Linked DNA regions of Homo sapiens: regions 2, 3 and 4 are each linked to region 1. Evidence: fine-mapped expression QTL. A gene starts in region 1. Each other region holds a variant in brackets. All regions are shown on one strand. Distances are from middle to middle. Region 1 holds the start of UST (uronyl 2-sulfotransferase). Region 2 has its middle 150 kb from the start of UST. Region 3 overlaps UST (uronyl 2-sulfotransferase). Region 4 has its middle 160 kb from the start of UST.

Evidence for each region.
Region 2: its variant is fine-mapped to the expression of UST in esophagus muscle (GTEx, PIP above 0.99). The same link has a PIP of 0.9 or more in fibroblasts, sigmoid colon, subcutaneous fat, sun-exposed skin, transverse colon and visceral fat.
Region 3: its variant is fine-mapped to the expression of UST in cerebellar hemisphere (GTEx, PIP above 0.99). The same link has a PIP of 0.9 or more in cerebellum.
Region 4: its variant is fine-mapped to the expression of UST in gastroesophageal junction (GTEx, PIP above 0.99). The same link has a PIP of 0.9 or more in breast.

The regions. Positions count from the first base shown.
Region 1 is chr6:148,744,168-148,749,695 of GRCh38, forward strand. UST (uronyl 2-sulfotransferase) reads left to right here and starts at 2,863. Exons shown (of 8, transcript NM_005715.3): 1 at 2,863-3,510. The coding sequence starts at 3,264. It overlaps LOC124901425 (a long non-coding RNA gene), which reads right to left and starts at 1,432. Exons shown (of 2, transcript XR_007059806.1): 1 at 1-1,432. RefSeq lists enhancers at 2,492-2,551, 2,612-2,691, 4,000-4,501, 4,502-5,001 and silencers at 3,262-3,351, 3,652-3,821.
Region 2 is chr6:148,590,392-148,595,919 of GRCh38, forward strand. No RefSeq gene overlaps it. Among named protein-coding and RNA genes, the nearest start is that of UST, 150 kb to the right of the region's middle. The variant A/G (reference allele first, on the strand shown) is at 2,811.
Region 3 is chr6:148,903,273-148,908,800 of GRCh38, forward strand. All of the region lies in intron 2 of UST (uronyl 2-sulfotransferase), which reads left to right. Among named protein-coding and RNA genes, the nearest start is that of UST-AS1, 59 kb to the right of the region's middle. The variant A/G (reference allele first, on the strand shown) is at 2,373.
Region 4 is chr6:148,581,052-148,586,579 of GRCh38, forward strand. No RefSeq gene overlaps it. Among named protein-coding and RNA genes, the nearest start is that of UST, 160 kb to the right of the region's middle. The variant T/C (reference allele first, on the strand shown) is at 2,309.

The sequences.
Region 1 (5,528 bases):
ACATGAGATGGATGAACACAGACTTGACAGTTCTTGAAAAGACCGAAAAACAGGGTGGGCTCCAAAGAAGCCAAACAGAAGGATAGAAGGTTGTGAAGGGGGAAAAGGAGATTTCGGAGATGCAATTAGTCATCAGTGAGGACAAGGTCAAATGAGTCACTGGAGAGAGAAGGAATTGAGAAGCTAAAGATATTGAATGGAGGTCAAGGTGCTGAATAAAGTATATTTCATTATAAGACTAATAATAAAATTCGTTCACAACTTCCTCTAATTAGATTTGTTATCTGCTTTGAATAAAGATACCATTAATTAGTCTAAGTACTTTAAATTTAATTTTTTTTTCTGAAGGGATATTTATGGGACTTCAAAGAACAAAGTTTTACCCAAACAACTAAGTTTTTGTTGGGTGAAAATATAAAGCATTTTTTTCCATGTGAAACTTCTTTGTATCTTGATATCTCTTCTTTTTCTTCTGTGAGTTTTTTTAGGCGGCGAGTCTATTAACACAATCTTTTAAAGATTGACCTGTTTATTCTCTCTGAAATAGTTCATGTCATAGCTTGTTTCTTCTAAGCTGGACTTTGCCCCCTTGTACTTTCCTTGCAACTTTTTCATCGTTTTTTAAAACAACATTTATTCTCATATTTACTTATTTTCTCAAATGTTTGTTTCCTTTCTTCCTGCTCCATCTCCCTGTTCCTCAGATTCCTTTCCTTAGGAGAAAAAATTGGGGTATTTCCCACAGCATGCTGTGAGAAAAGTCTCTGAACTTCCTGGGGGTGGGACTTGTGAACACAGAGGGTCTTGCACACTATTTTATATCCAGCGAGTGTTCAGATTACAGGGCCAGGCCTCAGATACAGGTCCAGTTTGTGGAAGGCGGTCCCTGAAACATTATGAACACTGCTTTGCTCCTTCTGTCTCCTAGTCCCTCTTCTTAAGCTCAAACGTTATTAATTGGGAGTCTGTTCTGGGCTACTCATTGTACTGATTAAAGTAATTCACATTAATGGGCAATGACTGATCTACTCAATTCTCTTAGGGGAAGTCACATTTCTAAAATGTGCATATTAATCCAAATAAAACCCTGATTCATGAGATAAATGTAAAGCAAATGATTAACACTCTATTCAGGGTTTTCTGTCACAGAACAAAATATTTTCTTTTCTCTTGGGGCCCCAAAACAGCCTTCTCATCCCTTAGAAAGTGGGCTAGGACAATGTAAAATTGGACAGTAGAGTTGTGTGTGTGTACGTGTGTCTCTGTGTGTGTGCAGCACCTGTCACCTCATCTACACATCTCTCTAGCTCATGATATATGTTTCAAATCATGAACCAGAGACATTCATATATGAACATGGTTAAGACATATTCATTCTTTCTTTCTTTCTTTTCTTTTCTTTCTTTTTTTTTTTTTTTGAGACGGTGTCTCGCACTGTCGCCCAGGCTGGAGTGCAATGGCGCGATCTCGACTCACTGCAACCTCCGCCTCCCGGGTTCACACGATTCTCCTGCCTCAGCCTCCTGAGTAGCTGAGGTTAAGACATATTCTTAACGAGTAAGTTCTTTGTCTAGGATAATATTTTGTAATTTTCCACAGAATATTCTTCAGATGCCTAACTTGATGAAGGTTTTCAGGAGCCTAGTCTTAGAATCATAGAGGTTCTTGGCTCCTGGTTCCTTCTTAAATCCAATTGTTCATTACTGGAATATACAAATGAGTAGGGAGCCAGAAATGATAGGCACCAGAAACTGAGGTTTCCATTTCTCAATGTGGCCTGAACTAAATGAATTAAATCTCATCCTCCTATGGGACGTGAAGGAAAAGGGCTCTGGCTGGGAAGTACTGCTGTGCAGTGGTTAGTATAGTGGGTCTGAGGGTCAAATAGATTTGAGTGCAACTCCCAACCCAACTCCTACTACTAGCTTTGGGACCTCGGGTGAGTCACACAGCCCTCAGGTGCTACAGCTTCTATAAATAGTGATATAGTATTCTTACTTAAAGTGTGGCTGATCAGAGCAGCCCTTCCGTGGATCAACCACCCCATCAGAGGATCTATGTCTAGGATTGAGCCTTTTCTGCCCCAGGAGGTTCTTTCAGGTCCAGAGGCTTTCCCGTGGAGGGAAGAGAGGCAGCAATGAAATCAGCGTATAGGCGGACTGGGCTCTTTCCCCTTCATGTCTGCAGGGCAATGACCTCCTAGAGTCCGCTATGCACCCCCCACTTGCCTCTCTGGGCACTGCGAGGTGGAGCAGTTGTAGGACCAGGAAAAGCAAGAACAGAGCGTCCTCTTCGGCTACCCTACCCGGGAGTTCAGGCGCTGCGCCTGGCCCTCTGGGGCGTGTTTGACCATAACTCGCACCGCTTGCTCTTTTCCCATTTCAGCAAAGTCTTGAGCCTGTATTCTAGTACCTTTTATCAGCCTTGGGTAAGCAGCTCGCACGGGGTATATAAGGAGAATCAACTTTCTGAACTGAAAAAAATGTAAATAGTAAAGTCAGTCGTGCTTCTTCCTGCCGGTGACTGTTTACAAGAGGGAAGTCAGCGGGGCCCCCAAGAGGTCGCTGGTGGCGCAGGAACCGCATCCAGATTGTAAAGAACGGGGGAAGGAAAAAAAAAGAAAACACCCAGAAACTTTCTTCCTTGTTGCGAATAATCGCCGCCTCCCCCCCTCCGCCCCCAGCAGAAGCAGTAACGTGACACCCGAGCGAAATCCCGAGACCCGAGCGGAGAGGGAGGGGAGAGGGAGGAGAGTGCTGCGGAGCGCCGGAGGGAGAAAGGGGAGGAGAAGGAGGAAAACCCCTGTCAAGGAGGTGGAGCGAGGGGATGGTGTCCGCCTCCTGTTCCTCCCTGCCGTTTTTTAGAGAAGCCTGAACCGGGACAAAACACGCCGAGACCTACAGACACAAAGCCGGGGGGTCCACGCTGGCGCTGGAGGCGAGCCCCGGCGGCCGCAAGCGAGCCCGAGGCGCGGCGGGGCGCGGGGCGTGGGGACGCTAGCGGGCGCCGGACGGGCGCGGCGCCCCGTCACGGGCAGCGCCCCGAACCGGGGCCGGACACCTCGGCCGCTCGGGCCGCGGCGGCGGGGACCATGCCGAAGAAAGTCTCCTGAGCCCGGCAACTTCGGCCCCTCCCCGCCCCCACCCGGCTGCCCTCCGCGCGGCCCTCCCCATGTGCAGCCGGCCAGCCGGGCTCTCCTCCTCGCGGCGGATGGGTGACCTTTTCCTGGCACGGGCAGGCTGTGGGAGGCAGCGGAGCAGGCGATGAAGAAGAAGCAGCAGCATCCCGGCGGCGGCGCGGATCCCTGGCCCCATGGGGCCCCTATGGGGGGCGCCCCTCCGGGCCTGGGCAGCTGGAAGCGTCGGGTGCCCCTGCTGCCTTTCCTGCGCTTCTCCCTCCGGGACTACGGCTTCTGCATGGCCACCCTGCTGGTCTTCTGCCTGGGCTCCCTCCTCTATCAGCTCAGCGGGGGACCCCCTCGCTTCCTGCTCGACCTGCGGCAGTACTTGGGTAAGGAAGCTGGGCAGGCGCTAGGGCGGCGCCGACAGCGCAAAGTTGTGCGGCGGGGAGAGGGTCGCGGCGGGGACTTCTCGCGCTGCCACCGCGCGCCGCCGCCGCCCCGGGTCTCTCCAGGTGCTAAGCCCGTGAGCATCTGTGCCGCGGTCGGGAGCGCCTTCTTCCTCCCGCGCGTCCGACTGTCCTCACCGAGGCGGGGGCGCCGCTGGGTTGCGCTGCCGGCAGGTACCCCGGGGCGAGGCACCGCTCACCTTCCCCCCGCCCCACCTCCGCCACCCGGATCCGGACTGGGGCGGAGTGGATGGGTGTGTGGGGTGTGCCGGAGTGTGTGTATCTTCAGGCCTGGCGGCGCGGGGAGTGGCGAAGGGAAGGGAAGGTCCTCTTCGTTGCATTGTTAGTGACCGCAGTTCAGTCCCGTCCCGCGCCCCGGGGAGTGTGGGTGGGTTTAGCCCTTTGCCACCGTCCGCTCTGAGAATTCTGTCCCGCAGATCCCCCGCCTGCCCGCCGGCCCTAGTGGCTCCGCGCTGTCCCCGGGCTGGCTTGTCCCTTGGCTGCCGCTGCCCACCCCGCCGCCCGCAGCTAGCCTGGCGCGGGGAACGGGTTGCATCCAGGGGTTTGGGGATGCCCGAGGGCGCTGGTCAGCCTGGCCAGCAGTGTCGCCCCCAGTAACCCGAGGATCCTCGGCGCTGTGTGCGTCTCAAGCTCAAGTCAAAACTTGTGTGTGTGTGTGTGTGTGTGTGTGTGTGTGTGTGTGTGTGTGTGTGTGTGTGGTTTATTAGGAGAGAGGCCGCCTGTCTTTAGCAGAAGTAAGGAAGGGGTTTGACGGGAGGGAAAGAGCCGCTCCAGCGAGAAGGCGTGACCCCGCAGCTCCCTCGTCTCGGCTGCGGGAGCCAGGGGTGCCAGGGACAGGCGAGCGCAAGCCCAGGTCGCAAGGACGATGCTGGCACTCGCGTTCGAGCCAAGGGAGGATGCAGATCCCTCCCAAGTCTGTGGCCAGAAGAGGTCGTGCGGGGGTGAAGGCTGGGAGAGCTCCAGCTTCTTGCAAGCATCCGAAGTGATAAGCCTGAGCATCTGCACGATGAGAGCGAGTGCGGGGAAGCAGAGCCACCGAAGTGCTGGAAAGAAAATGGGCCAAATGACCCGGGCCAGCTGGAGGCTGCCACAGTTACCCCAAACGTCACTTCGTGGCAGAAGCCACAGGTCTAGATAGTAGACCGTTTGGAGAAAAGAGAAAAGAAAAGGAAAAAAAAAAAACCCAAAACAAACAAACAAAACAAAGCAAAACAAAAACAAAACCACATCAGCCAAGTTACAAATGTGTTAGGGCATTTGGAAATGTAGATGTGGATAAAATAATATTCTTTACCTTGTACAAGACCTCATATTTTAAAAGTTACACTTTTATTTCTTTATAAACTTTGGGGAACTACAGATTACAGGAAAAGTTGGCCCAAGTAGATTTCCATAGCATTTGGTTTCATAGAGGATTTGGGGCAATATATCCTTTATTAGGGAATCAAACCTCTTCTTTTCATAAGTTCTGTATTGTGGAGTCTCATAGCTTCCTCCACTCTCTGACACCTGCTAGTGCCACAAAAGTTAACAGTATTTTCATCACCAGCAGCAATCCCTGTTAACAGGCATTGGGAGGCAAGCGTTGAGGCTCAGGGTCTTTCTCCATTAAATCTGACAGTGAATTCTTGTGGAAGTTCTTTTTAAGTAATAGATGGAGGCCAGGGGTGTAGGGAAAAGTGTAATGGACCAGGATGGAAGTCATCTGTGCTCATTGTCCTCAAAGCACCTGGCCTCGTGTAGGGTACTCAGACTTCATAGGCCTGGTGTTTCATGGCAGAATTAGAAGCCACACCTGACTGTCAATGAAACCTCCACCCAGCTCCTAAAGTTTTGGGGTTCTGACACCTTTCTTGAGGAAGGGAAATTCTGGGAGGAGGAAGGAGCAAAGGTACTACTGAGGATAAAATCAAGACATTTCAACATATATTGCATTAACA
Region 2 (5,528 bases), 150 kb before region 1:
GTATTCCTGTATACACCTGGACCTTAACCAGTGGGAAAAATGAGCAGCAAAGTTGTCCTGGGTCAACTAGAGCTGGAAAGTGTCGGGGCTGGGACAAACCAGGCACTATCTGTGCCCAGCCCCCTCTCAGCTCCACTAAACAGCTTTTTTTCCTCCTTCAGCTCAAGGGCCACCAAAGTGAGGGGGGCTGGTGATGTCTGTGGTGCCCCTGTCCATTCATGCCCAAAACAGGTGAGAATGGAACCACACAAAAGTGAAAATGAAACTGGTGGGGAGGAGGAAATAAGGTTCAGAGGGAAAGAATAGGGGTGCACACAGGAAAAAGAAGAAAAACAAAGGGGAGACTTTCACAGATTGCCTAGCCATGGCACTGGCACAGGCAGTAAATGATGTGGATTCTGTCTTGGGACATGTGGCTACTCTATTCTGAAAATGTCATTTGCTTAAAAAAAAAAATTATCTATTGCCATTTAGCCCTCCTGGATATGCAACTTAAAAAAATCAAATACAGAAATTGGGTTATTTTCTCCAAATAAATTGAGAATATTTTATATTACTTATTGTGTCTTTATAGTAGAAGATATTGCGAGTTTTTCACCTAACGTTTTCCTTTTTGTCATGGACGCACAACTGGATTGCATTTCCCAGCCTCTCTCACGGGTAGGTGTGGTCACATGACTGAGTTCTAGCCAATGGAATGTGAGAGGAAGCCAGAGCTGACGCATAGAACCTCTCACGTTATTTTCCCTTCCATGGTGACATGGGAAGCATCCATTGAAGAAGGTGGAGCCATGGGTGGGAAAGGAGCCTGATCCCTCAGTTATAGTCAGCCCTCCAAATCTGTGGGCTCCACATCCTTGGATCCAACCAATGCTGACTTGAAAATATTTGAAACAACAACAACAAAAATAACAATATAACAACAAAAAATAATACAAATAGGAAACAATATACAGTAACAACTATTTACACAACATTTACATTATATTAGGTATTTAAATTTTTTTTAGAGTTGGGGTCTCACTATGTTGCCCAGGCTGGAGTGCAGTAGCACAATCATAGCTTACTGCCATCTCAAACTCTGGGGCTCAGGCCATCTTCCCACCTCAGCCTCCCAATGTGTTAGGATTACAGGTGTGAGCCATTGCACCTGGCCTGTGTTAAGTATTATAAGTAATCTAGAGATGATTTAAAGTATACAGAAGGATGTGCACAGGTTATATGCAAATACTATGCCATTTTGTATCAGGGACTTGAGCATCCAGGGATTTTGGTATCTGCAGAGTTGTGGAACCAATCCCCCAGGGAGGCTGAGGGATGATTAAACTTTTTGTGTGTGTGTGTGTGTGAAGTATTTGACAGGTTTACATCACTGCTCACCACTAGGGAACAAATTAATCATTTTTTCTGTGCCTCAGTCTTTTCCTTATCTGAAAATATTGATAGCAACTACCTCCTGGGGCTATTGGAAGTACTAAATGAGTCAATATTTTCACACTTAGAATAGGGCTCTGCTTAGAGTAAGCACTACATAAGGATATATTAAATAGTGAAAGCTCTATAAGTGTCAGTATTATATTAGCCTTTATGGCTGTTAAGGACTGAATATTTGTGTATCCTCAAAATTCTTATGTTGAAATCTTAATCCTCAATGTGACAATACTTGGAGATAGCAACTATGAGAAGGTAATAAAATTAACTGAGGTCACACATATGGGTCCCTAATCTGATAGGTCTGGTACCTTTTTTTAAATTTTTTTTTTGAGATGGAGTCTCGCTCTGTTGCCCAGGCTGGAGTGCAATGGTGCGATCTCAGCTCACTGCAACCTCTGCCTCCCAGGCTCAAGTGATTCTCCTGCCTCAGACTCCCGAGTAGCTGGGACTACAGGCACGTGCCACCACACCCGGCTAATTTTTTATATTTTTTGTAGAGACAGGGTTTCACCATGTTAGCCAGGATGGTCTCCATCTCCTGACCTCTTGATCCTCCCGCATTGGCCTCCCAAAGTGCTGGGATTACAGGCGTGAGCCACCACGCCTGGCCTGGTGCTCTTTTAAGAAGAGGAAAATATATCAGCATTCTCTCTCTGCACACGTGTGCACCAAGGAAGGTCATGAAAGGACACTGTGAGAAGGTGCCATCTGCAATCCAGGAGGGGAGTCCTCACCAGACACGAAATCTGCCAGCACCTTGATCTTGGACTTCTTAGCCTCTACAACTGTGAGAAAATAAATTTCTGTTGTTTAAGACATGCAGTCTGTGATACTTTGTTCTGGCAGCCCAAGCAGATGAACACAATGGCTATTCTAAACATTTTAAGACATTTCCTTGAATGGTAATGAGAATAACCTTGGTTGATAGGTTTTCTTTTTTCAGGATGGCATAAAAGTTAGGAGTTGAGGTTGAGGTGTCAGATGAGTTGGCCTGGGTTCAAATCTTGGCTTTGCAGTACTGTGAGACATGAAAAATTTACTTAACTCCACTAAGTCTTAATTTTCTCATTAATAGGACTATAATATCTACTTCATAGGGCTATTGGAGGATTAATGAGATAATGTTTGTAAAAAAAAATTCAGTGGAGTGCCTGGCACATAGTTAGTCCTAATTAATCTCAGAATCTGTTTTTTTTGGTTGTTATTGTTGTTGTTGTTTACTTTTTGGCGCCAAAACTCTTCCTTGAAGCAAAATCTTAGATAAATAGCCAATCCAGCATAGATGGAAGCAGAGGGTAGGGCTTGGAAGGGAGGAGACCCTCTGTCCACCCACGGGCTTCTCCTCACATCCAGTGACATTCTCCAGAGTGTCCCTG[A/G]GTCACCTCTGTGGAATCCTAGCACTGCTCAGCACAGTTTGATCATTTATAGGACTTGAAGTTCCCTAAACGATTATTTTGTTCCAGTTTTAACATTGTTATGACTACGAGAAGTGGCATGTGGCCGTGAAATGGAAGTGGAAGTTGAAATTATACTCACACGACCTTTTCCCTATGTTTGGGCCTCTTCTGACTTAGCAAATGACTTCCACCACTGCCTCTCACGCTCACGGGTTAAGCCCCCTCTCTACAGGAGTCGCCGCCCTTTCTCCCGTCTGCTTCTGCTGCATGGAGAGGGGTGGCAGGACGCTGACATGATGCTGACATGATGCTGTTGCCCTGCTGCCTGGGGCCCCATTGAGGGGTCCAGGCTCCAGATGAGGAGTGAGAGCTCATGAGATTTCATTTGTAGAGCCGGATGGCTAAGTTTCTGACAGATAAGGCCCTCAGCCAGTTACAAGGCATGGTTGTGAAACTAAATTATCTAGGGAAAAAAATGAGCCGTTCTGACACCCCCGTGCCTTCATCCAGTCAAAAGTTAAATTATCGCCCAAATTTTCCCTCTGTACCTCTACTTAGCGGTACAAGTGTAAGCCATACATAAAACTCCAGTTAACTCTGACTGGGCAGGAGTGGCTCCATTTCCCTTGCATTCAGAGGAGGCCACGTGGCTGCTGAAACCCTTAGGGGACTTTCACTCCCACTGGGATGAAATTTTAAGTCTTAACCATGGTCTCTGACCTCATATCCTCTCCGTCTCCTCCTGACCCTTGCTGCTCCAGTCACTCTTGTCTGGGGTTCCTCGAGCATGTGAAGTATTTTCCACTGTCTGAGCCTTTGCACATCTGTTCCTGTGACCTTCCTCCCAGAGAGCCACGGAGCTCCATTCTTCATCAACTTCCTCCTCAAAAAGGCCTTCCTTGCTTGCCGTGTCTAAAACAGCATCACCGATCCCTCTCTAAAATTGTGCCCTGCCAACATACAGTTACGTAGGAGGAATAAATTCAATGTTTGATAGCAGAATAGGGTGACTATAGTTAAACAAAAATGTATTGCACCCAGGAGATGGACACCCTAATTTGATCACTATACATTATATACATGTAACAAAATTTCACATGTACCCCATAAATTTGCACAAATAATAAAAAGTCAACATGAGCCTTTCTTTGTATTTATGGCTCTTACCTCCATCCCACATAGAGTATGGACAAATATCGACAATTGCCTATCTCCCATCCCCTTCACAGACATGGAGCAGAAACTGGGTCTACTGCGTTCACTACCATAGCTGCAGGTTCTGGAACAGTGCTTGGCACATCGATGCTCCATGAATCCACGCTGAATGAATGACTAGGTGACCTTAACTGTTACTCGTGCATCTGCACAGTTACAAACTTGCAGAGGCATGCAGAGAAGTGGTGGATAGTATTGGCTCTCAGCTGCTTGTATTGTGGCCAGGCCTATTGATGCCTGGATTTGTGGCCTTTAGAAAACCCATGTAGGCCCAACAGAAAGGTCCAAATAAGCCTGATTCACCTTAGCGGGAGAGTTCATATCTGCGTTAATTGTTTTAACCATGAAGTGACGGTTACACCTCTGGCCATTATTCTTGCTTGAGGAGAGTAGTTCCCATCTTATTCCTGTTTCTTAACTTTATCTTATGCTACAGTGGCTTTATACTGTGTTAACTTCGGCTGGTTAGAATTATGTTTCACAGAATTCCCTTCCCAGTATGGTTCTGAGTTAGAATTGGCCAAAAGAAAGTTGGCCAAAGCATGCTCAGTAAAAACAGATGCTGAGATGCCAGTTACTGCCAGTGGTCATCATGCTTCCCTGCTCTGCATTCAGCCCCTCCTCCTGCCAGCTGGCCCTGCTGACCAGCATCGACTGTGGTCCACCACCAGGTGTAGGAGCAACATCTTGCCTGGACTTCCCCATCAGCTCTCCACTGTCCTTCCTCTCCAGCATCTGGATCTGCTGGCTTCCCGGAATCCCTGCAAGTGCTGACTTGCCCATCTGTCCCAGTGCTTCAGGAGGGCTGCATAGGGCATTTTCCCAGAACCTCCAGCTCTCATGTCAGACCTTTACTTCCAGCTCCTCCCACACTTGTGTAAGGTTTAATCCCTGTAAGAAAGTCCTATTCCATCATCCTCATTGTCATTCCTCTTCCCTGATTGAACTTTCATTCATACACATGAAAAGTATCCTGTACTCAGCCTGCCAATTAATAATCATTTCTCCAGCATTATCAGCAGCATTTTAAATATGGATACTTTCTTTCTAAATACTTAATACACTTGCCTTCCTCTACTTTATAGCATGATCTCAATAATTATCTAATATATAATGTAATTTGTTATTTCCCAAAATATGCTTTGATGCTTTTTGATGAGATACAGACTAAAGCTTCTTAAAAATTATTCAAAACAGTCATGTGTCCTATATGATGTTTTGGTCAATGACGGACTGCCTACATGACCGTGGATGGAGCAATAGGCTAGGTGTGTACTAGGTTCTACCTTCTAGGTTTGCATAAGTACACTTAAGTACACTCTATGATGTTCACATGATGAGGAAATTGCATGAGAATGAAATCGCCCAACGATGCATTTCTGAGAATGTATCCCCATTACTAAGTGACGCATGACCGTACTGGGAAGTAGAAAATATAATCAACACTGAAACTCATTATTTCATGAATATTATAAGTCAAAA
Region 3 (5,528 bases), 160 kb after region 1:
TATCATGTCCCCCACATTTAGGACATGTACCTATTTAGTTGACAATAAATACATGTCAAATGAATGAATGATGGTTATAGACAGTATCTTTCTTTTGCTTCAAGTTTTAATAATATTAAAAATGTTCTGTCATTGAGTATAATTGTAATTTTTAGTTTAAGATACATATTCTTTATCATGTTAACAAAATATTATTTTTAAATTTTCTGAAAGCATACAGTTATTCAAGAAAATATGTTTCCTTTGTGGGTTGTGATCTTGCACTCAGGAACATGTGCTGAATTAGTTTAATTCAACTTTATTTTATAAACTAATAGGGGTAAAAACTAATGGGGACAGACAGTTTGAGACGTGCAGACAGGCACTATTTCTCAGTATTTGATTTGTTGTAACATTTTTACTGGTGACCGGAAGAGGAAATGCTCAGAAAAATCTGAGTTTGCAGGTGACTCTAATATGCAGGTGACTCTAATATTTTTTCTGGTACTACTGAACCACAGGACTATCTACTAAGCTCAGAGTCTCTGTCACCTGTAATGTAGGGGCTTCCTCCCAGGAAAATACTGCAGCCCAAAGAGGCTGTCAAAGTACTGGACACCCTGGAGCACAGAATATAACAGTGTCTTGTGCAAGCCATGATTTATCTATGTCAGAGAGTTTCTATGCAGTTTTAGTCAACAAAGACCAAGAGAGGCATAACTGGCTGGAGAACATTCAGAAACTAATAACCAAAATGATCTTGGGAGGTAGAAGCAAAGACTAAATTAATTATGATTCTTGTCAGAAGGGACATTGACTCTGGAAAATCATCAAAGCCTATAAAATCAGAAGCAGTGTGTTTGAGGTGAACACAAAACTCTTCACCAAGGCCTTGAACACAACTGTGGTCTGAAATTAAATAGACTCAAAGTGCCTCAAATCTTAAATACGATATATCAAAGACAAATTGAAGGACATCTTGTTTCTTGTGGGGGATAGTAAACAGCTGGACTTCATTTGCCCAAATGACAGTACAGGCCAAAACTATAAATCAGTTCCTATAAAAGTTGATATATATTCATGGATGATGAATCCACAGTAGATTAGGAAAAGTGCAATGTTGTTTAGAGGGACAGCCTAATATTTTGGAGTTGATGTTCTTGAATCCAGTAAGATCATTCTTATTTTATATATATAATAAAATAAGAAAATTAGCAAAAATTATTTCCAATATGAATATTATTTAGTGGTTATTGACTCTTATTTACAATTTAGTAATGCTTTTCTTTTTTGAGACAGTCTCACTCTGTCACCCAGGCTGGAGTGCAGTGACACAATCTTGGTTCACTGCAGCCTCCACCTACCAGGTTCAAGCGATTCTCCTGCCTCAGCCTCCTGGGTAGTTGGGATTACAGGCACCCACCACCACACCCAGCTAATTTTTGTGTTTTTAGTAGAGACTGAGTTTCATCATGTTGGACAGGCTGGTCTCGAACCCCTGACCTCAAGTGAAGTCCTCAGTCTCCCAAAGTGCTAAGATAACAGGTGTGAGCCACTGCACCCAGCCAATTTAGTAATTTTTGGTTCTTGTCTCCAAAGCATTCACTGGGTGCTCCTGCTCAGATTCCCCATCTTGTAAGGCTTTCCTTGAAGCCTCCACCTCCTGCAGCTGCCCTAGGCAGAAGCTCAATATTGGGAAGGCATCAGCAGCAGGAGTTTGAAGATCCTGGTCCAAGTCCCGGCTCCTACTCCTCCTAGTCCTCATCCTGGCAAAGCCAAGTACTCTCTCTCTGAGTTTTGTTTTTCTCACTTATAAAATAGGAAGTAATGATTTCCCAGTATTCTTCACATTCACATTTTTGTGAAAAGGAAATCTAGTTAACATTTCTAGACGTGCTTTGGGAGCCATAAGGTGCTGGCTTCGCAATGATGGGTACAGATGGAGTGGCCTGTTTTCCAAACCTCTGAGTCATTACTTCTCTCTTCCCTGGTCCCTGACACCCTGCGAATGAACCCCCATGTGGCCTCTTGCTCTGGCAAGCTGGTTTGATTATGTGCAGGGCTCCTCTGCCCCTGAAGCCTAAAGCCTAGTGAAAGGCAGACTGGGTGGAGACCCTGGCAGTTCTCTTCTAGGCTCACACCCTCATCTTGACCTTCAGCTCCCCTTCCTCCACTCCATGGAAACAGAATTGTCAATGTATCCCCCTAAAACCTAGGGTAGAGCAAAACCAGCTGGACCTTCCCCTCTGCCTTTCCCTGGGGTGAGACCTAGACTCCCCATTGGCTCCCTTCCCCTCCCCAGCCCCCATTAAGGGGAAATTGGGAGTCATTTACTTTCTGTACTAGCTGTGTGGGACATGAGAGAAAAATGAGCAATGTGAAGCCAGCCAACA[A/G]CAGAAGGAGACCCAGGGAAGGAGCCAAGTGGAAAACAGCCTGAAAAACCTTTGTGCCATCCTTTGAGCGTATCATTTCCTACCACCAGAGCCTAATTCTGTCCTTGAGGAATATATGATCTTAAGACTTCACCTCCTCTAAGAGGAAGGCAGCCTTGGGCTCCTGTTAGAGATCTTAGTGTGCAAAACTGCAAAGCACTTAGAATGTCACTTCTGACCTTATAATATTCTTCTGTAACAATAGCTGGCACACATCATTATACATCATACTGTTACCGGTATGCATATATTGTTATCTCCCCAGCTATATTGTAATTCCTCAAGGGCATGGAACATATTTTATACATCTTTTTTGGCTTAATGGATATGTACTAATTATGTGTACCTAGAGGAATCCTTTCATCTGGCAGTCAGAGGTATCCAGAATGAACTTGTCAGTTACGTAAGCCCCATCCAGCATGATTCCATGATGCAGTGCCTCTAGCGCGGTGCTGTAGGACGTGAAGCATCACAGGTGATTTGGAGAGGTGGATGCTTCTTGCCCAGAGTCACTTACCTGCCTGGCTTTGATCTTCATGCTTCTGCCGTTTCTTTCTTCCTCTTCAAAACCAGATGTCTTCCTCCCCTTGGCCAAAAAGAATATACCAGTGAAGTGGTATGTCAGGGCATTAATAATGAGAAGTGTGCAGACTGTAGTTTATGAGGATTTCAGGTTCTTTGATTTAGAATATGATTGTTTGCTACAAATTAACTTCATCATGGGTGAATATAGCAAAAAGTGGGCAAAAGTAACTGATCTGGGCTTGTCATCTGTGCACTTAATGGACAAGGTATGAGGGTTATCTAATTGATGTTTCTAAAGTTTCAAAATGTGTTCAGATACACAATGGTCACTGAGGAGAGATGTTATTAGCTTGACTGCCATTGTATTAGGTTGGTGCAAAAGTGATTGCGGTTTTTGTCATGAAAGGTGATAGTATAGTATTTGGGGGCTTAACTTCTGAAGCTTAGTGAACCTACATTCACTTGAAGACTCTGCCTCTTACTAACTGTGATTTGGGACAGATTTCAGAATTTCTGCTGTCCTGTTTCCTCATGTACAAGGGATCCTATTTGATAGGGTTGTTGAGAGAATTAATTGAAAGAAACCATCTAAAATGCTTAGCACAGGCCTAGTCTATCCTGGATTAATGAAAGTCTAGTCAGTTGTTGGCATGGTATGAGTTAGTGGGTTTGATGTGCACACATAAATGCCTGTGCAAATACTGAGGAAGGGTTCTAGGAGTCACAGCAACAAGCAGAGTTTGAGTTATGTAAGCCTTCAAAAGTGTGTGTTCTGACCACTGATGTTGCCATTTCAAGTTATTCTAAACTGGTTAACCACAGATGGGATTAAAGCAAAAATTATGAATATATTTTATTTATTTTATTACGGTAAGACAAAATAACAGATTAACGTGTACACAACAAATAATGTGAGAGAAAAAAAATCTCTGTTTGGTAGGATTAGTGTTTTCACTTGTATTCAGTCTGGCCAACACGGGAATTGATGCTATTTTAAGTATACTTTTCAGCCATAATTATCCAAGTAAAATCAAAAGCAGTTGTTTATTGAAAAGTACTGCATTTAAGATAAGAAATTTAGTATATTGCAGACCACAGTTTGGAGATCACACTGAATTATATCCTACAAGGAAATATCATTCTAGATACCTTATAGAGGTGTACTTATACTAAATGTTACTCCAGATCTCAGGAAGCATATGTTGTAGGGATACCACAACACACATAGGGGAGAAATGCACTTTTAATGAGCCCTACTAATTTGACATTCATAATTCAGAAGGGAGATAGGCTGACATGGGCCTTTTTCTCTGTAAAGATCAAGAATGTGACAGATGATTGTAGGAACAATTACTTTACAAAAGAGAACCACCTCATTTCAAGGACCTCTTAGTGCAAAGAAAGAAAAGGGTGGCCATTTTCTTATGGCCTTCAGTCATTTCTTTGGTTTATTTAGCACTGGCTCAGGTACTAGTTTCAGGGTGTAAAAATCCCCGATGCAGAGAACATTCTGCAACTCTGCAATACGTACAGAGCCCTAGAATGGAAAAGTGCTAACGAATTTCATGACCTAATTTAAATTCCCCAGTGTGGCTAATTGGGGAACTGTGTTTTACTGATCTGAATTGCTAATTTTTATAGATATTATTTTAACAGCTGTCCATTTGTAATTTATGTCAGGGTGTTTCCAGGGCTTTTTTTTTTTTTTTTTTTTTTTTTTGACAGAGTCTTGCTCTGTCACCCAGCCTTGAGTGCAGTGGCACGATCTTGGCTCACTGCAACCTCCGTCTCGCAGGTTCAAGCAATTCTCCTACCTCAGCCTCCCGAGTAGCTGGGATTACAGGTGCCTGCCACCATGCCCAGCTAATTTTTGTATTTTTAGTAGAGATATGGTTTCACCATGTTGGCCAGGTTGGTCTCAAACTCCTGACCAGGGTCTCATTTTAGCTAAGTGTAATTGTATATGTTTTGTGGCATTTGGCTCGAGTCAAATCAATTTTAAATCTGCCAGAAAAGTTTGTTTTAACTAGTTTTTATTCCTAGTAAAAATAGGCTCTCATTACTAATTATTTTGAGTAGGTATATATAGTATATTTTTAATTGGTGATATATTGGAATACCCTTTTAGAATAATAATGTTTCATCTAATCAGAAATCTAAACAACCACTTGGTGATTACTGTGTACTCAAAGCCAGTTAGTACATTAGCGAAGTCACCAAAAGAATCATTTCCATTTCAAAATCTTGGGCGTTTGGTGGTATATATTTTTATTTTAGTGTATGAGAAAGTCAACCATTGCTATCCCAAATGACAGAAGTTATTCTTTTGCTTATTACATTTAATTATTTTTCTTTGCCATTTAATTGTAATACAGGGCTTCTATATTTTGAATGTGTGTTAAACGAATTTAGATTTATAATTTTATATTTTAATGATTAATATCAAATTCTCTTTTTAACTCTGTGAACATGAGTCATTTGAATTACTCAGTTATGCAGACAACATATTTTCAGCTACCTATATCTAGTTCAAAACGTGCCAATGAAAGATCTGTTTTCCCTTATTTTAGTTACAAATGATCTTGTAATCAG
Region 4 (5,528 bases), 160 kb before region 1:
ATCCGTATGGGTCTGCAGCAACCTCAATTCTTGCCTCCTCAGAAGAAAGAATTAGACAGAGAGGCATAAGGCAGAAAAAGAGACCAAGGCGAGTTTCAGAACAAGAGCGGAAGTTTATTTTAAAAGGCTTTAGAACAGGAAAGAAAGAAAGAAAACTATGCTTGGAAGAGACCCAAGTGGGCACTCAGATCAAGTGCTCTGTTTAACCTTGATCCTAGGACTTTCCAGGCTGGCCCCTTTCCCATGATTCTTCCCTTAGGGTGGGCTGCCAGCATGCACAGTGCCCTCCTTACCGTTGGGAGGAGAGCACGTACAGTGTGGTTAGGAAGTTGTACGCATGACCATCTGAGACTTTCTTCCCTTTGCTGGCGGTATGCCCTCGGAAGGTCATACTCCACCATTTTGTCTTAATGCATGTGCTGGGAAGTTGTTTCTCCCTGGCATATGAATCCAATTAGCACTTTAGTTGGGCAGGTGTTGACCATCAGGAAATGGCTCCTTCCTGGCACTGGCTTCCAATTCATTGCTTTTAGAAAGGCAATGTGATAACTGCCAAACCATCACTCGACATTCCCAGTGGGTGGAAAAGAGCCCTCTCCTGATCCACTCATGCCTAACTACCAGAAATACCATCACCTAGGTATTAAGCCCAGCATCCATTAGCAATTCTTCCTGATGCTCTTCCTCCTCCCACCTCACACCCTCTGACAAGCTCCAGTTGTGTTTTGTTCCTCACCATGTATCCATGTGTTCTCATCATTCAGCTCCCACTTATAAGTGAGAACATGAAATACTTGGTTTTCTGTTCCTGCATTAGTTTGCTGAGGATAATGGCTTCCAATTCCATTCACGTCCCTGCAAAAACCACGATCTCATTCCTTTTTATGGTGGCATGGTATTCCATGGCGTATATGTGCCACATTTTCTTTATCCAGTCTATCATTGATGGGCATTTGGTTGATTCCATGTCTTTGCTATTGTGAATAGTGCTGCAATGAACATACAATTATTGCATGTATCTTTATAATAATTTATATTCCTTTGGGTATATGCCCCGTAATGGAATTGCTGGGTCAGATGGTATTTCTGCCTCTAGGTCTTTGAGGAATCACCACACTGTCTTCCACAAAGGCTGAATTAATTTACACTCTCACCAAAAGTGTAAAAGTGTTCCTTTTTCTCCACAACCTTGTCAGCATTCTGTTGTTTTTTGACTTTTTAATAATCTTCATTCTGACTTGCTTGAGATGGTATCACATTGGGGTTTTGATTTGCATTTCTCTAATGATCAGTGATGTTGAGCTTTTTTTCCTATGTTTTGCATGTATGTCTTCTTTTGAGAAGTGTCTGTTTATGTCCTTTTTAATGGGATTATTTGTTTTTTTCTTGTAAATTTGTTTAAGTGCCTTGTAGATGCTGGATGTTAGACTTTTGTCAGATGGATAGATTGCAGAAATTTTCTCCCATTCTATAGGTTGTCTGTTCACTCTGATGATAGTTTCCTTTGCTGTGCAGAAGCTCTTTAGTTTAATTAGATCCCATTGTCAATTTTTGCTTTGTTGCAATTGATTTTGGTGTCTTTGTCATGAAATCTTTGCCTATACCTATGTCCTGAATGGTATTATCTAGATTTTCTTCTAGAGTTTTTATAATTTTAGGTTTTGTTTGTTTTTTTGTTTGTTTTTGAGATGGAGTTTTACTCTTGTTGCCCAGGCTGGAGGGCAATGGCGCGATCTTGGCTCACTGCAACCTCCACCTCCCGGGTTCAAGTGATTCTCCTGCCTCAGCCTCCCGAGTAGCTGGGATTACAGGCATGGGCCACCACGCCCAGGTAATTTTGTATTTTTAGTAGAGACAGGGTTTCTCCATGTTGGTCAGGCTGGTCTCGATCTCCCAACCTCAGGTGATCCACCTGCCTCTGCCTCCCAAAGTGCTGGGATTACCAGTGTAAGCCACCATGCCCAGCCAGTTGTACATTTTATATTTAAGTCTTTAATCCATCTTGAGTTCATTTTTGTATATGGTATAAAGAAGGGGTCCAGTTTCAATATTCTGCATATGGTTAGCCAGTTCTCCCAATACCACTTATTAAATAAGGAATCCTCTCCTCATTGCTTGTTTTGATCAGATTTGTCAAAGATCAGATGGTTGTAGGTGTACGGTCTTATTTCTGGGTTCTCTATTATGTTCCATTGGTCTATGTGTCTATTCTGTTCCATTGGTCTTCTTGTACCAGTACCATGCTGTTTTGGTTATTGTAGCCTTGTAGTATAGTTTGAAGTTGGGTAGTGTGATGCCTCCAGCTTTG[T/C]TATTTTTGCTTAGAATTGTCTTGGCTATTTGGGAGCTTTTTGGGTCCCATATAAATTTTAAAATAGTTTTCTTTAATTCTGTGAAGAATGTCAATGGTAATTTATGGGAACAGCATTGAATCTATAAATTGCTTTGGACCGTATGGCCATTTTCACGATATTGATTCTTTCTTTCCATGAGCATGGAATGTTTTTCCATTTGTTTGTGTCATCTCTGATTACTTTGAGCAGTGGTTTGTAGTTCTTGAAGAGGAGAACTTCACTTCCCTTGTTAGCTGTATTCCTAGGTATTTTATTCTTTTTGTGACAATTGTAAATGGGAGATTATTCATGATTTGGCTCTCTACTTGCCTGTTGTTGGTGTATAGGAATGCTAGCTATTTTTGCACATTGATTTTGTATCCCGAGACTTTGCCAAAGTTGCTTATCGGCTTAAGAAGCCTTTGAGCTGAGATAATGGGGTTTTCTAGATATAGGATTACGTCATCTGCAAAAAAAGATAGTTTGATTTTCTCTCTTCTGATTTGAATACGCTTTATTTATTTCTCTTGCCTGATTTTCCTGGCCAGAACTTCCAATACTATGTTGAAAAGGAGTTGTGAGAGACGGGCATCTGTGTCTTGTGCTGGTTTTCAAAAGGAATGCTTCCAGCTTTTGCCCATTCAGTATGATATTGGCTGTGGGTTTGTCATATATGGCTTTTATTATTTTGAGTTATGTTCCTTCGATACCTAGTTTATTGAGAGTTTTTAACATGAAGGGATGTTGAACTTTATCAAAGACCTTTTTTGCATCTATTGAGATAATCATGTGTTTTTTGTCTTTAGTTCTGTTTATGTGATGAATCACATTTATTGATTTCTGTAGGTTGAACCAAACTTGCATCCTGGGAATGAAGCCTACTTGATTGTTGTGGATAAGTTTTTTGATGAGCTGCTGGATTCAGTTTGCCAGTATTTTATTGAGGATTTTTGCATTGATGTTCATCAGAACACTGGCCTGAAGTTTTCTTTTCATTTCTTTTCTTTGGTTTTAATCTGCCAGGTTTTGGTATCAGGATGCTGCTGGCCTCATAGAGTTAGGGAGGAGTCCCTCCTTTTCAATTTTTTTGGAATAGTTTCAGTAGAAATGGTACCAGCTCTTCTTTATACCTCTGATAGAATCCTTCTTTGTACCTCCTGGGCTTTCTTTGGTTGGTAGACTATTTATTATTGCCTCAATTTCAGAACTCATTATTGTTTCTATTCAGGGATTCAGTTTCTCCCTGGCTCAGTCCTGGGAGGGTGTATGTGTCCAGGAATTTATCCATTTCTTCCAGATATTCTAGTTTATGTGCATAGAGGTGTTTATAGTATTCTCTGATGGTTGTTTGTATTTCTGTGGGGTCAGTGATGACAGCCCCCTTATCATTTCTGGTTGTGTTATTTGAATATTCTCTCTTCTTTATTAGTGTCGCTAGTGGTCTATTTTATTAATTTTTTCAGAAAAAAAGCTCCCGGATTCCTTGATTTTTTGAAGGGTTTTTCGTGTCTCTATCTCCTTCAGTTCAGCTCTGATCTTGGTATTTCTTGTCCTCTGCTAGTTTTGGTGTTTGTTTGCTCTTGGTTCTCTAGTTCTTTTAGTTGAGATGTTAGGTTGTCAATTTGAGATCTTTCCAGCTTTTTGATGCAGGTATTTAGTGCTATAAATTGCCCTCTTAACACTGCTTTAGCTATGTCCCAGAGATTCTCATATGTTTTATCTTTGCTCTCATTAGTTTTAAAGATCTTCGTGGTTTCTGCCTTAATTTCATTATTTACCCAAGAGTCATTCAGGAGCAGATTGTTCCATTTCCATGCAGTTGTGTGATTTTGACTGAATTTCTTAATCTTGCATTCTAATTTGATGGTGCTGTGGTCTGAGAGACTATTTGTTATGATTTCAGTTCTTTTGCATTTGCTGAAGAGTGTTTTACTTCTGATTATGTGACCAATTTTAAAATAAGTGTCATGTGGTGATGAGGAGAATGTTTACTCTGTTGGTTTTGGGTGGAGAGTTCTGTAGCTATCTATGAGGTTTACTTGATCCAGAGCTGAATTCAGGTCCTGAATATCTTTGTTAATTTTCTGCCTTGATAATCTGTCTAATATTGTCAATGGGGTGTTAAAGTCTCCCACTATTCTTGTGTGGGTGTCTAAGTCTCTTTGAAGGTATCTAAGAACTTGCTTTATAAATCTGGGTGCTTCTGTATTGGGTGCATATATATTTAGGATAGTTGGCTCTTCTTATTGAATCGAACCCTTTAACATTATATAATGCCCTTGTCTTTTTTTTATCTTTGTTGGTTTAAAGTCTGTTTTTTTCAGAAACTAGGAGTGGAACCCCTGCTTTTTTCTGTTTTCCATTTGCTTAGTAAATTTTCTTCCATCCCTTTATATTGAGCCTATGTGTGTCTTTTCATGTGAGATGGGTCTGTTGAAGACAACATACTGATGGGTCTTGGTTCTTCATCCAGCTTGCCATTCTATGTCTTTTAATTGGGGGATTCAGGCCATTTACATTTAACGTTAGTATTATTATGTGTAGATTTGATCCTGTCATCATGATGCTAGCTGTTTATTTTGCAGACTTGTTTATGTAGTTGCTTCATAGTGTCATTGGTCTGTGTACTTCAGTGTGCTTTTGTAGTGGCTGCTAACAGTTTTTCCTTCCCATATTTAGTGCTTCCTTCAGGAACTCTTGCAAGGCATGTCTGGTGATGATCAATTCCTTGAGCACTTGCTTGTCTAAAAAGGATCTTATTTCTCCTTCACTTATGAAGATTAATTTGGCTGGAGATGAAATTCTGGGTTGGATATTATTTTCCTTAAAAATGTTGAATATTGGCCCCCAGTCTTTTCTGGCTTGTAGGGTTTCTGCTGAGAGGTCCACTGTTAGTCTGATGGGCTTCCCTTTGTAGGTGACCTGGCCTTTCTCTCTGGCTGTTCTTAACATTTTTCCTTTCATTTCGACCTTGAAGAAACTGGTGATTATGTGTCTTGGGGTAGATCTTCTCATGGAGCATCTTACTGGGATTCTTTGCATTTTCTGAATATGAATGTTTTCCTGTCTTGCTAGGTTGGGGATGTTCTCCTGGATACTATCCTGAAGTATGTTTCCCAACTTGGTTCCATTCTCCTTGTCTCTTTCTGGTACCCCAATCAGTCATAGGTTTGGTCTTTTTACATAATCTCATATTTC